2 linked regions of the Homo sapiens genome follow. The protein of the gene in region 2 purifies or fractionates together with the protein of the main gene of each other region. This does not show direct contact. Each region holds a gene or a part of one and is shown on either strand. Other genes may lie near its edges.

What was found. The genes of interacting proteins can lie anywhere in the genome.
Region 1: the proteins of CLCA2 (region 2) and NDC1 purify together in Homo sapiens (affinity purification with mass spectrometry; one large-scale study listed by BioGRID and IntAct). This does not show direct contact.

What each region holds. Positions count from the first base shown.
Region 1 is NC_000001.11:53,830,868-53,835,315, reverse strand, and holds part of NDC1 (nucleoporin NDC1), read left to right. Parts: intron 1-2,724; coding exon 2,725-2,826; intron 2,827-4,448. UniProt on the Homo sapiens protein: Component of the nuclear pore complex (NPC), which plays a key role in de novo assembly and insertion of NPC in the nuclear envelope.
Region 2 is NC_000001.11:86,443,722-86,448,990, reverse strand, and holds part of CLCA2 (calcium-activated chloride channel regulator 2 preproprotein), read right to left. Parts: intron 5,205-5,269; coding exon 4,980-5,204; intron 3,608-4,979; coding exon of another isoform or gene 3,470-3,607; exon of another isoform or gene 3,465-3,469; intron 1,484-3,464; coding exon 1,213-1,483; intron 1-1,212. UniProt on the Homo sapiens protein: Plays a role in modulating chloride current across the plasma membrane in a calcium-dependent manner, and cell adhesion. Involved in basal cell adhesion and/or stratification of squamous epithelia. May act as a tumor suppressor in breast and colorectal cancer.

The DNA of each region.
Region 1 (4,448 bases), about 33 Mb from region 2:
AGATTAATAAGCTTGTCAAAGACTGTGATCATAGGAACGAAAAGATCATTAGAAGACCCCATAAATGAAAACTTAGTTTCATTTGTTTTTCCTTTGGGCAGCTTTATTGAGATTGTTTGTCTCTTTAAAATACAGAATGGTTCCTGTCATCGATTCGAAATTGTGGGTAGAAAATATGACATGTACCTCTTTTAAAAATACGTCTAAAATTAAGAGCACTTGATTTCTTTTTTTGAAACAGAGTCTTGCTCTGTCACCCAGGCTGAGTGCAGTGGCTCAGTCTTGGCTCACTGCAACCTCTGCTTCCCATCTTCAAGCAATTCTTGTGCCTCAGCACGCGCCACCACGCCCGGCTGATTTTTGTATTTTTAGTAGATACGGGGTTTTGCCACGTTACCCAGGCTGGTCTTGAGCTCCTGACTTCAAGCAATCCACCTGCCTCAGCCTCCCGAAGTGCTGGGATTACAGGTGTGAGCCACCGCACCTGGCCTAAAATGTTCCTTAAATTCCTTAGAGACTAAGTAAAATTACTAAATGTATTAAAATTAACTTGTTTTCTGTTAATAACTACCCATTATTGCCTGTTTACCGTGTGCCAGCTCCTTACATATATTACTTCTTATCCTTCCTGTAACTCTGTGTAGTTAAGAGGTACTTTCTACTTTATAAATGGGATAACTGAGATTCAGGTTAAATAATCCATGCAGAGACACCCAGCTAGTGAGTAACTGATTTAGGATTGAAAATTGGTCTTTCTTTTGCCTTGTAAAGTGGGAAGTTGAGTTTTTAATTTCGTTTTTCACAAGAAAATGCCAGTTTTCAAGGAGTTGGACTCTTTACCCATGACCTTTGGAGATATTGGTGTTAAGTTTCTTGTTGACGTACGTCCATCACTTTTTCGATAGGTCCCACTGGTCAGGTGAAATTAAGCCATAAGCCAGCACAGGCATAGCAAATATTTCTATAGCCACCTTACCTGTGTCTGCTTCACTCACTGATCATGGCTCTCTGGTGGCAACCTTAGAGTACTCAATCTTGTATTTGAGAGCCATTACCAATTGTTCACAATTGGCACTGGGGACAAAAACTTTTTGCCATTTCATGGCCAGAGGTTTTTTAATCCTCATCACACTTTCTCTGCAGGTTGGATTTGATTTATGCCATTTTCCTCATCAGAAGCTTGGGTTTAATTGTAGATGCTTAGTAAATATTCCTCATTAATTTAGGTCAATGGGCCGAGTGTGGTGGCTCACCCCTGTAATCCCAGCACTTTGGGAGGCTGAGGCGGGCGGATTGCCTGAGCTCAGGAGTTTATGACCAGCCTGGGTGTGGTGGCATGCACCTGTAGTCCCAGCTACTCGGGAGGCTGAGGCAGGAGAATTGCTTAAAGGGGGAGTGGGGGGTGGAGGCTGCAGTGAGCTGAGATCACGCCACTTCACTCCAGCCTGGGTGACAGAGTGAGACTCCATCTCAAAAAAAAAAAAAATTTAGGTCAATGAATTGTACTTTTAAAAATAAGTGGTTAATTTTTAAGTCTTAGCAAACATGCTCTTATTTTTATTTCATTCATATTTTTAGGCATTATATATATATATTTTAAACTTTGAGATGGAATATCGATTGTTGAACTACTCTAAAATGTGAATGTATTAGTATTTCATGGGGGCATCCTGATTTTTTTGTTTTTGAGTTCCGCTCGTTTAGATGATGTAATGTATGGCTTATTCTATTTCCAAAAATGTTACTTTAGCTATATGAGGTAATTGCATTTATGAAGAAGAGATCTGAAAAGTATTCTTTATATTTTAAGAAAAAACTTTGTTGGTATATTACTAAAGATGATACTTCTCTTTCACATGATTAAATATTTGCATATGCGTGGCTGGGTGTGATGGCTCATACCTGTAATCCCAGCATTTTGGGAGGCCGAGGTGGGTGAATTACTTGAGGTCAGGAGTTTGAGACCAGCCTTGACAACATAGTGAGAACCCAAAAAATAGCCATGGCGGGCATCTGTAATCCCAGCTACTGGAAGGCTGAGGCAGGAGAATTGCTTGAACCCAGGAGGCGGATTGCAGTGAGCCAAGATTGAGCCACTACACTCCAGCCTGGGCAACAGAGCAATACTCTGTCTTGAAAGAAAGAAAGACAGAGAAAAGAAAGAAAGAAAGTTTTGCCATGTTCTAGTGTTTTGTCTGATGTTAACTGGGTCATTTAAGAAATTGTAGTATAATTTTAAAGTACCTGGGGCCAGGTACGAATAACTCACACTGTAACTCCTTTTTTCTCCCCCCCTTTGTTTTTGAAACAAGGTCTTTCTCTGTTGCCTAGGCTGGAGTGCAGTGGCATGATCACTGCTCACTGCAGCCTCAAACTCCCAGGCTCAAGTGATCTTCCCACTTCAGCCTCCTGAGTAGCTGGAGACTGCAGGTGTGCACCACCACACCTGGCTATCTTTGTATTTTTGTAGAGATAGGGTTTTGTCATGTGCCCAGGATGGTCTTGAGCTCCCTGGCTTAGTGATCCCCCCATGCCCAGCCCACACTGTAGTTCTTGAGTTGATATCTCATTGAACCTGTCAGTGGTGTACAATTAAATTCTTGAAGAAAAGATAACCTTTAAAATTAATGACAATTGTGGTTCAAGCTCTTTTTATATTGCAGTGTCCTGAACGTGACTACATGACTGAATAACCTTTACTAATTCATCTCTCTTGTGTTTTAGATTCTTTCAGTGACCTGTATAGTTCCTATGTAATCTTTTACTTCCTGCTGCTGTCAGTGGTAATAATAATAATAAGTATTTTCAATGTGGAGTTCTATGCAGGTGAGTTTTCAAATGTTAACCTTCTTAGAAATATGCGAATTTATTTAACTAAGGGAAGACTTAGTACATTTTATATGTGAATGTGTTTTGTGTCAAAAATTTAAAAACGTATACAGAATCATATGCTTCAAATGTTGTACCTTAAAATTTATTTGGGTGCTAGTTTCTGTTTTAAAAATATTTTTAGACTTTTTAGGACAAATATTATATGATTCTACTTATACGAGGTATCTGGAGTACTCAAATTCATAGAGAAAGAAAGTAGAATGCTGGTTACCAGGCGCTGGGGGAGGGGGAGTGGAGAATTGCTGTTTAATGGGTAGAGTTGTGGAAGATGGAAAAGTTTGGGAGCTGGATGGTGGTAGTGGTTATACAACAATATGAGTGTACTTATGCCGCAGAACTGTGTACTTAAAAATGGTTCGAATAGTGAATTTTATTATTTTACCACAATAAAAAAATTTAGACCTTTTAATAGTTCATAACTAGTATTAAAGCTGTGATTTAGCAGATACATTATGAAAAGAATTCCTTTATAGGGAAGACCAGGTGATTTCTAAGTTTTTTTTTCAAATATAATAATCTATAATACTGTGATTAAAAAAAAACTTATGTTTTGCCTTGGAGAATCACCTGCTGGATTCCAGAGCTTTTAATTTTTCTGTTTCTCTTCATATTCTTTCTGCCTTTTCAGATTCCTTGAGACTGCCTTTAAGATACAAGTTGTGGCAGATTCACATAAGGAAAAAAAGATACAATAAGAAGCTTTTCCTGACTCTTATTTTTTTACTATAACATCATTTTCCTTTTTTTTTTTTGAGACAGAGTCTCGCTCTGTCGCCAGGCTAGAGTGCAGTGGTGCGATCTCAGCTTACTGCAATCTCTGCCTCCTGGGTTCAAGTGATTCTCCTGCCTCAGCCTCCGGAGTAGCTGGGATTACAGGCACGCGCCACCACGCCCGGCTAATTTTTGTATTTTTAGAAGAGAGGGGGTTTCACCATGTTGGCCAGGATGGTCTTGATCTCTTGACCTTGTGATCTGCCCTCGGCCTCCCAAGTGCTGGGATTACAGGCGTGAGCCACTGCACCCAGCCCATTTTCCTTTTTTTAAACTTAAAAAAAATTTTTTAAATGTACATGTTCCATATGTGCTAACATGTCTAAACCTTAAATTAGTTTATCATAATGTCATGTTTTAGATTTTACATTTCATTGATTATATGAATATTCTGTTTATTTATTTATTTTATTATTATTATCATTTTTGAGACGGAGTCTTGCTCTGTCGCCCAGGCTGGAGTGCAGTGGCGCGATTTCGGCTCACTGCAAGCTCTGCCTCCTAGGTTCACGCCGTTCTCCCGCCTCAGCCTCCCAAGTAGCTGGGACTACAGGCACCCGCCACCATGCCTGGCTAATTTTGTTTTTGTATTTTTAGTAGAGACGGGGTTTCACCATGTTAGCCAGGATGGTCTCAATCTCCTCACCTCGTGATCGGCCTGCCTTGGCCTTCCAAAGTGCTGGAATTACAGGCATGAGCCACCATGCTTGGCCTATTTATTATTTTTTTTGAGAGAAACAGATGCGGTAGGATCATAGAATACTCAGACCGGGAGGAATTTTTTT
Region 2 (5,269 bases):
TAATATAAAAGCCAATTGAGCTGAATCAGACGATATTCCCTAGGGGAGTAGGCTCTGTTCTCCAGGCTGGCCCACAGGGTGGGGCAAGAGAGAAACATTCTGCAAAAGTACATTTTTGGACCATAAACAAAAAATGAAAGGTGCAACCATGGATAAGCCATCAGAGCATGAGAAGTTCATTTGGATCCAATCCAACAGGCAAAACAAGAAGACTTCTCTGGTATCCCCCAGTGGTGGACTTGAACCAAAACCCTTTGAATGAACTTTTGTTTTCCTGCACATCATACATGATTGCCATGGCAAGATACTGATGGGCTACCAAACTTAAGACTCTTGAAAAAAGATTAACTTTGAAACAACAGGGCAAAAGAATATAATTTTGTTAGCAGATCAAACACTTCGGGCTGCCAAGAGGCAGGTCTACTGCCATTCTAAGAATGTAATTTAGGAAAATAACCAAATAGGAAAGATGGAACAACAAAGGAATTTGTTTTTCAAAGGATCCCAAGTGCTGCTGTTTACCTGGCTGGATGCTATACCATCTATAATGTATGATGACGAGGCTCTGAATGCTGTATGTGCAGAATGAGAACTTTTCTCTATTCTGATTCCACTAGGCTTGCAGGCTGGGTCTTCTTGGGACCAAATTACACACGTAAAAGGCATTGGCTGTGCTAGAACTGAGCTGTGCCCTCTCTTCAACCCAGCCTCTTGGGTCTAGGGTCATCTTATAGGTCACAAGTTCAGTTTCCAATTTTTTCTTCATAACTGGGGTCCAAAGGGAAAAAGTGGGTTCGCTGTCACTGCACCTCCCTTCTGATTTTCATTTGCTATTTTAACAGTCCAATCTGATTACTTCAGTGAATAATAAAGCTAGTGACTCTTAGAGGAATATAAGTATGTCATAAGGACATAGAAGCCTGCTCCTGTATGACCTCAGCAAGTGGAAGCCAGGACCAAGGTGTCCAGCGGCTGCCTCCCACCCTTTGCTCAAACATAGACACTATGAGGAGTCTCACAAGGACTCTCTTTTTCCATGTTAACCTGTAGCTATTCAGTATATCAGTGACTCTATAAGAATTTGAGAATATTGTAAGATTAAAAAAAAATTGAACTCAAGGAATCTTACAGATAAGCTTAATATTGATACTACCGCATCATATCACAACAGCTGTTGAGAAGATGATAAAATGTCATGACATTCCTTGTTACCTGCTCCATCATCAAGGAGTCTCAGCGTAACAGGATCTCCAGTCTCTGGCTCAACTGTGGCAGTGACAGTGGCATTAAGAATGGGATAAAATCCCTGTTTCACATTGGCATAAATCATCACAGGATGAGGAAAATGGAGGCTGTCTCTTTCCACAAAGGCTTCCACAGTGGCTGGGGGCACAGCTGAGTTGGAGGCGCGAGAGGTCACTGTCACTTTCAGGGCTTGCAGAGAATGATGGGTATTGTTCAGGGTGTAAGTCCAGTGCCCAGGCTGTAAAACAAGTCTTATTGTTTTGGAAAGTGTGAAAAAAAAATCAACCCTAATTTTAAAGCATACATCAAAACTTCTGGAGAATTTTGCTCTTGTTTTGTTGATGTTGCACTTTTTAAAATACTACAAAAAGATGCCAGGAAAAGTAGCATTGGTTAAGGGATGAATAAATTTGTATTTACATGGCTTTCATAGCATAAGTCACCTTTATTTCTAGATAATTCTTTAGGGAATTACACCTCGAATTTATTTGGAGTGAGGGAGGATACATCTTGATTCCCATTTTTAGAACATAACAATAATAGTGTCCAGCTTCAAAGTACTTTACAGATATTAATCTGAGCCCCTTCCCCAAAAAGGCGTTTAAATGTTTTTCATTTCTTTTCATAACTGAGAAAATTACATCAAATTAATTGGACCATTATAATTTATGTGGACACCGTGGACTAAAAAGGCAACAACATCCTTCTTTCACTCCACTTCCCAAAAACTCCACACTCAGAAATCTCAATCAACAAAAAACACATACACTACTAGGGACCAAGAAAAGGACCTACTATTTTTAATAGGTCAGGATTATACAATATCTAATTTGGGTAATTTATAGAAATACTGCTAAACACTACTCTTGCCTATCTGCCTGGGAAAAACCTACAAAAGAAAATCTGAAAGAAAAAGACTAAAATTACAATATAGCAGAAATTCGTCCTTTTGATTAAGCTATACATATATTGCTTTTCCCTGACTTCTGCTGCTGCTCCTTATCAAACCCCCAGAAGTAACAAGTGAAACACAACAAAGCAGAAGGAAGAACAGAAAAGCAAGGGGTTGAAGCGTAACTCAGGGTGGAGAGTTCAGATGCACCACACCCTAGCCATCTTTCTTCATTGGGATTCATGAGCTTCACTATTTTCCATTAAGTTATGATTCAAGGACTATGTTTTTTTGTTTTTGTTTTTTGAATCATAACATTAGTGACAGATGCATGGCAGGAACTTCCACATCAAAAAGTTCTCTGAGTGTAATAAATGTTTTGATACAGGGCATCTAATCCAGACCAAGAGGTCAGGCAAGGGGAGCAAGAAGTAGGTAAAGTGTCCCTGGCCCTTATACACAGGTGTGAAAAGAACATGATGAATTTGGAGAAAAGTTCAATAGGAGCAGAGCATCGAAGAAGTTAAGAGAGAAGCTTGGGTAGAAGCCAAAACATGAAGGGTCTGGTATGTAAGATTTACCACTTGGGCCTGGTGACAGAGCGAGACTCCATCAAAAAAAAAAAAAAAAAAAAAAAGTTCCCACAGCTCACCACTACAGAAGCAGAGAAGACAACTATGCAGAAAACAGAGTTGGTGGCAGTCAGGAGGAATGCAGCTGGTCTGTTGGACCCCTACTGGATTGGGGGAGTGCAGAAGACACTGGTGAAATCCTCTATACTGAAGACCTGCAGTTGGGAGCAGGGGGAGTCCATGGGTCTGCTGATTTTTTTTCCCTATTTAGTACTAATGTGTGTGTGATCTTTGTTTTACAAAATACCTTTTGGGTTTTCTGCATATTTTAAAATTTTTGTACAGTTTTGAATTCTATAGATCGTCTTGGAAGGATACTGTGTGATGAGCCAGGCACACAGTAATTGGAGACTTTTAATGTGTGTAATATTTCATAGATTGCATGCTATTAATCGTCTGTGAGGGTAGTATTTTTTGTTTTATTATAAGTTTCCCTCATTTTTTTATAAATTAAAAGATGGTTGGTATTAGGAATTTCAAATGAATGCAGAAAATCTTACATGCTCTGTACTATTAATATTATAACAAAGACGATCCAAGTCCAAAATCTGACCAATAAAGCAACCATTTTATCAAGATAGAGGATTCTACCATGGGAGAGGGGATTCTTCCCTCCTGAAGTTTGTGTGTCCAATCCCCTTAAAAAAAATGAATAGTTGTCTTTTCTTGTCATATTAATACTCGAAAGTCCATGGTGATATTAATGAAAGTACACTTTATTGTTGCCTTTGACCTTATGGCCAAGGCAATAAATCAGAAACAAAAATAGTGCCAATGTGTCAAAATCTACAACTGAGAGATTCAGCCTCCCATCTGGAATAAATGCGAATCTTCTAAGCTAAAAAAAAAAAAAAAAAAAAAAAAAGGTTAACACTTGGATTTTATTCTGAAACCACCAAGGAGGTTTTGAACAAAAGACAGACTGATTTGTGCTTCAGAAGGATCGCTTTTATAGAGGTAAAGAATGGACTGGAGGGATGGCAGTTCAGAGTCAAGAAGGCTAGTTAAGGGGCTGTCAAGAAGGTGGTGGGAGCGGTGGCTCATGCCTGCAATCCCAGCACTTCAGGAGGCAGAGGCAGGCAGATCACTTGAGGTCAGGAGTTTGAGAACAGCCTGGCCAACATGGTGAAACCTCATCTCTACCAAAAAATACAAAAATTAGCCAGGCATGGTGGCAAGTGCCTGTAGTCCCAGCTACTCGGGAGGCTGAGGCAGGAGAATCGCTTGAACCTGGGAGGTGAAGGTTGCAGTGAGCTGAGATGGTGCCACTGCACTCCCGCCTGGGTGACAGAGCGAGACTCCATCTCAACAACAACAACAACAACAACAACAACAACAACAAAAGTGGGGGTGGGGCAGCATGTGAGGAGGCACTGAATTCAGGCAGTGCAAGAGTGAATCTGATCAACTTACAGTTCTCCTTAGAACCATCAGTGGTTCCCTTTCACTTTCAGGATTCAAGCCCCTGTTCACTTTACTGTTGTGCAAAGCCCTTGCTAATACAGCTCCTGTTTACCTGTCTAGCCTCACTACTCCCCTCTCCTTCCTTTGCCTACATCCCTAACTTATAGATTACCCTACTCTATTGAACTACTCTAGTTCTATGAACAGCCATGTTCTTTTTATCTGAGTCTTTCTATATGCTGTTTCCTCTGCCCACAATATCATACCCACCTCTGGCCTGTTATTCCTTATATTTCCATTTTGATGTCTTTGCTTCCAGGAAGCATTCTTCCTTCCACCCTCTTGTATGTTCTGATAGTACCCTGTTCATGCTCTTACCATGGCATTTTATTGTAAAGTACCTGGAACAAAACCCAGCACACCCAGTAGATGCTAAAAACCACATGCATTGCATGTATTCATATTATAAATTCTAAGTAGAGATTTTTTTCTAAGCATATAGAAAAGTGTGTTTGTATGGATTATGTAAAGAAATATGTAGGCTAGAAAAACATTAATTGTAATACTAGTGGAAATACTAATTTTCAGTGTTGAAGTATTTGGTGTCTAATATATAAAACTGGGAATATACCTTAGTTATTCCTCTTAAATTTTTAATATTCACAAAATGGCCTCATAAATTTAAAGTAAACTTTTGATATATTAAAACAAGATTTTCTTTACACAATGCATTTAATCATGTGATTCAGCTGAAAATCATAAACTTGGTTGAACGTTGTCCTTAGGAACAAACTCACAACACCTACCTTAGCTGTTCCTGGAATCCAAAGACTAGCTGTCCGAAAAGTTAGATTGGTGATAAAATTATTTGTGTAGTATTTTCGTCCATCAGGATCAAATAATATAATCTCAGGAGGACCACTGGCCTGCCACGTAACTAGAAACATAGTGTCGTTGCCCACAGTATTATCCACAGTCACTGTGTTTTTCAATTGATGGTGAGGTTTGACATTTTCACCTGTACTTTCAAGCTGTTAAAGAGAAGATATATATGAGAGTTTCTGGTGTATGCATAATCATTCCATCTTTTTCTTTT